Linked DNA regions of Homo sapiens: region 2 is linked to region 1. A link means that fine-mapping ties the variant in region 1 to the expression of a gene that starts in the linked region. Tissue or cell type: whole blood. Region 1 holds a variant in brackets; the other region holds the start of a gene. All regions are shown on one strand. Distances are between the middles of the regions.

Region 1 (2,689 bases):
CCACTGCACCCACCTCCATTTTAATTATTTTTAGGTGTATGAGTCAGTGGGATTAAGTACATTCACACTGTTATGTAATTATCACCACCATCCATCTTCAGAACTTTTTCATCTCTCCCAAATGTATCTCTGAACCCATTAAATACTCTCTTCCCCCACAGCCCCTGGCAATGACTACTCTACTTTCTGTCTCTATGAATTTGACTACTCTACGGATCTCATGTGAGTGGAATCATACAGTATTTATTCTTTTGTAACTGGCTGATTTCACTTAGCACAATGTCCTCAAGGTTCAGCCATGCTGCAGCATGTTTTTTTTGTTTTGTTTTGTTTTAAGATGGAATCTGACTCTGCCGCCAGCATTGGAGTGCAGTGGTGCAATCTCGGCTCACTGCAACCTCCACCCCCTGGGTTCAAGAGATTCTCCTGCCTCAGCCTCCACCTCCTGAGTAGCTGGGACTACAGGCACCCACCATTATGCCCAACTAATTTTTTGTATTTTTAGTAGAGATGGGGTTTCACCATGTTGGCCAGGCTGGTCTCGAACTCCTGACCTCATGATTCACCCACCTCGGCCTCAGAAAGTGCTGGGATTACAGACGTGAGCCCTGCGCCCAGCCTGCAGCATGTTTGTTAAGGCATAAATAATATTCCGCAGTATATGTACACACTATACTTTTTATCCATTTGTCCATCAACAGACACTTGGGTTGTTTCCTTCTTTTGCCTCTTATGAATAGTGCTGCTATGAACATGGGTGTCTAAATACCTGTTTGAGTCCTGTTTTCAATTCTTTTGGACATATACCCAGAAACGGAATTGCTGGATCATACAGTAATTCTATGTTTAACTTTGGAGGAATCAGCACACTGTTTTTCACAGCAGCCGTACCATCATTTTATTTTCCCACCAGCAATGCACAAGGGTTCCAATGTCTCCCTATCTTTGTGAACACTTGTTATTTTTTTTATAGTAGCCATTCTAATGGGTGTGAAGTAGTATCTCACCATGGTTTTAATTTGCATTTCCCTAATGATTAGTGACACTGAAGATGTTTTCATATACTTTATCATTTGCATATCTTTTTTTTTTTTTTTTTTTGAGATGGAGTCTCCCTCTGTCACCCAGGCTGGAGTGCAGTGGCGCAATATTGGCTCACTGCAACCTCCGCCGCCTGGGTTCAAGTGATTCTCCTGCCTCAGCCTCCCCGAGTAGCTGGGACTACAGGTGCGTGCCACCACGCCCAGCTAATTTTTTTTTATATTTTTAGTAGAGACAAGGTTTCACCATGTTGTCCAGGCTGGTCTCAAACTCTTGACCTCAGGTGATCCACCCGCTCACCTGCATATCTTCTTTAGAGAAATGTCTATTCAAGTCCTCTGCCCATTTTTTAAATGGGGCTGTGTTTTTTGTTGTTGTTGAAGATATCATTTATGTCATTTAATTTAAAAACTCTCTGAAGTAGATGCATTTAATTCTACTTTAC[A/C]GATAAGAAAGATTAAGTGATTCCTCAAGAGATGAGGAGGCTAATAAATGGTGAGCATGTCTGCAAGCCACATCCCAAAGCAGATGCTGATTCTAGGCCTCCTTCCCCATTTGGAAACCCAGCTGCAGGCCCGACCCCACCCCTCACTACTTATGTGACAGTCCTTGAACTTTTCCAAGCCTCAGTTTACTCATCTGTTAAAGCAAATACAAAAATCACCTATGTCACAAGTGGCTGTGAAAACTGAATGCAACAGTGTTGCATGATGGAACTTCATCCACTGAAAAGGCATATCAATTTGAGCTGTTATTATTTATATTCTTATTTTCAAGAAACAGTTACTTTTTTAAAATCCCAAATGAGTTGGTAAAAATTCTAGTTCTCAGTAGTGGATGGAGCAATTGCTAGACTTACACTGCTCAACATATTTTAGACCAAATTCTTTATTTTATTTAAGACAGGGTTTCACTCTGTCAGCCAGGCTGAAGTGAAGTGGTGCAATCATAACTCACTGTGGCCTCGATCTCCTAGGCTCCAGCAATCCTCCCACCTTGGCTTCCTAAGTAGCTGGGGCCACAGGCTTGCACCACCACACCTGGCTTTTTATTTTTTTTTAAGAGACAAGGTCTCACTATGCTGTCCAGGCTGGTCTCGAGCTCCTGAGCTCAAGTGGTCCTCCAGCCTTGACCTCCCAAAGTGCTGGGATTATAGGCATGAGCCACCACGTCAGCCAGACCAATTCTTTATCACACCATTTCTTGCTTGAAAAGTTTTTACAAGCAATCTTTCTCTCTTTCCGGCATGCCTCCCTGGCTTCAATCACTCTATTCTGGAGAAGTACAGGACACTTTATACCTAGAGGAGCCTCAGCCTGGACAGCGAATCTCAAAGTTTGCATTGACAAAAGTCATTTTCCCGAGTTGATTGCTGATAGTCCAAATTTCTGGGTCTAAACCTCAGGGACTCTAATTCAGTAGCTTTGGGTGAGGTTCAGGAATCTGTAGCTTTGGTTTGTAACTCAGGGCGAGGTCTTTGCTCCGGCTATAACTTAGAAGTACATAATTTGCAAAGTTTAACTGGTCTGTACTGAAATGTTTGACCAAAGGAAATAATTTCAATCATAACAATGATTTCTGTTATAAAAGCTACTATTAACCCGATTTACCATGTTCCAAGGCACTGTGGTAAGTACCATACATGCAT
Region 2 (2,689 bases), 76 kb after region 1:
GCAATGCTGGGAAGCAAATGACCCACAGGGTTTTGTTTGCTTGCTTTGGTTTGGTTTTCCTGCACTTGGAGGGAGGGGAAATTTGCTCAAGCTCTGTAACCTTGCAGTCAGATGGGTGGCCCAGCCCAAGTCACCCGAGCTCCCCCTGACGCTGGCAGCAGCGCGGGCTTCTACCTGCCTGGGGCTGGAGTACCAATTCCCCCACCTCCTGCACAGAATGGGACCAAACCAACTCCGCCAATGCATTCCCTGCAGTCCACAGACGATGGGCACCGGGTCCCAAAATCTTTCCCCTGGGACGAGACTCCGCTGGTACCAAGAGAAACTTGCTTTCTAAACTAAGCTCTCCAACCGCATCGCTCCGGGTCCCCGGAGGCACCAGCCACGCCACCCGATGGAGCAGAGCGTTACAGGGCTCCGCCGCGCCAGGCTCCCCAGACTCTGCCACCCCCACGGCCGCCCCTGTAGGCCAGGCCCCGCGAGCTGGGAGCGCGGGTGAAGTTACAAGGCGACCTCCCTGCAGGCTTCCGGCTGGAAACGGCCTTTTGCGAGAACACCACGTGCATGTCCTCCCAAAAGCGATGGTGCCGGGTGGCCCAGAGGGCGCAGAGCCACCGCCGGGCAGGGAGCGGGCGCACGGACCTAACAGGTGAGCACCCGGTAGCCTCCACCGGCGGGGGAAGCAGAGGCCAAGCAGCTGGGAGCTGGACATCCCGAAGCCCCGAGGCAGTCCACTGGGACTCAAATCCTCCCGATATTCTACCTAACAGCCCATGCCCGCGCCCGCCCGGCAGAGCCGCGCGCCCGAAGCCGTCTTACCTCCTGCGGCGCCTCTTGGCGGAGCCTACAAAGTCAGCGTGTCCAACACGTCCCTGCCCTCAGAGCCACCTCCGGTGCCGGCGGAGCCCCGAGGTCGCCGCACTCTCGGAGGAGCCTGGGATCCAGTGCGCGCCCTCGGAGCTAGCGACCGGCAGGGCGATCGCGGGAGAAAGCGCAACGCACACTCTCCTCCCGCGCCGCGGCAGCACACTCAGCCAAGCCACGCCCCAGCCCCGCTCCCCACCAGGCCACGCCCCCAGCCCGGCTCTTCCCCCCGCCCCATATCAGGCCACGCCCCCGGTTAGCTCACTCCCTCAGGCCACACCCTCGGCCACGCCCCCACACTACCAACCACAGCCGGGGACCCCACCCATCAAAAACAGTTCCCCGGCCAGGCGCAGTGGCTCTTGCCTGTAATCCTAGCACTTTTGGAGGCCGAGGTGGGCGGATCACCTGAGGTCAGGAATTTGAGAGCAGCTTGGCCAACATGGTGAAACCCCGTCTCTAATAAAAATAAAAATTAACCGGGCGTGGTGACAGGCGCCTGTGATCCCAGCTACTCAGGAGGCTAAGGCAGGAGAATCACTTGAACCCGAGAGGCGGAGGTTGCAGTGTGCCGAGATCGCGCCACTGCACTCCAACCTGGAGGACACAGCCAGACTCCGTTTTTTAAAAAAAGAAACAAACAAAAATAGTTCCCTCAGCCACCAGCCAGCCCCCACCCCCCAGGGCGGGAAGAGGAGTCTCATCTCCGGGGCAACCGTGCCCCACTGCCCACTGCCTGGGCCAGAAGTTCACTCCCTGTGAAAGGAAAACGCAGGGTAGGGATTTTTAAACCTACATGTTTCCCAGGGCCTGGGGCAAGTCTTGAGTAGACTGTTGCAGTAAACCGACTCAAAGGCCTATCACCTTTCTTGTGAGGCTCAAGGCCTAATCATTAATTGACATGAAAACCACAGAAGAGAAGCAAACCCTTCTGTGCTGGGATCTGTGCCCCAGTGCTCCATGTTCCCTGATAGGCAGCTAATGGAATTCATAAAATAAATGCATGCTTTCTACCAGTGTAGTTTTTTAGATGATTCATTTAGTGGCCAGCACTATTATTTATAAATGTCTATTGTCTTTTATAATCAAAGAACAATACCCACAATCTGTAAAATAAAAAACAAAAATTATATTACCCAATGAAAAGTGAAAATTAATTTTATGTATGTTTTTTAAAATATTGAAAAAACTCTGTATGACATTATAATGGTGGCTTCATGTCATTATGCATTTCTCAAAACTCACAGAATGAACAGCATGCGGCGTGAGCCTCCTGTAAGTAATGGACTTAGTTCATCTTAATGTAACAACATGGGCCCATCAATCATAACACATGTGCCACTCGAATGTAAGATGTCAGTACAAGCAGCTGTGTGTGGAGGGAGGGGCGTGAGGGAGTACATCAGAACTCCGTGTACTTTCCATTCCTGTTTTCTAAACCTAAAACTGCTCTAAAAATAGTCTATTAATTAAAGCACACTCCAAGATTAATGATAATTATCTGTGGGTGGTGGAAATATGGGCAAATTTTATTTAATTCTTTGAATTGTTATTGAAATTACCCCAAGTTTTAACAATGACCATGTATTTTTAAAGCTGAAAAAATATAAAAACCAAACCTTGGAAAATTTTAGAAACATAGTATGTGAGGCTAATATCATTGACTGTTCCATTTTATTTCTACTCTATAAAAAATCTGCACAAAGCACTCACAAATGCTAAAATGAAATCTATGTTAGTATTATTTAAAAAAAAATATCACGGTCTAAATTGAGGGTTTTTTTATTATCTCTTTAGAATTAGCACAAATCTGAGGAGCAGATTT

Evidence for each region. PIP is the estimated chance that this variant, and not a neighbour inherited with it, causes the effect.
Region 2: SPATA13 starts here. The variant in region 1 is fine-mapped to the expression of SPATA13 in whole blood (INTERVAL, PIP 0.97).

Annotation. Positions count from the first base shown.
Region 1 is chr13:24,235,008-24,237,696 of GRCh38, reverse strand. All of the region lies in intron 2 of SPATA13 (spermatogenesis associated 13), which reads right to left. Among named protein-coding and RNA genes, the nearest start is that of SPATA13-AS1, 18 kb to the left of the region's middle. The variant A/C (reference allele first, on the strand shown) is at 1,487.
Region 2 is chr13:24,159,063-24,161,751 of GRCh38, reverse strand. It overlaps SPATA13 (spermatogenesis associated 13), which reads right to left and starts at 1,032. Exons shown (of 13, transcript NM_001166271.3): 1 at 820-1,032. RefSeq lists a silencer at 1,082-1,141.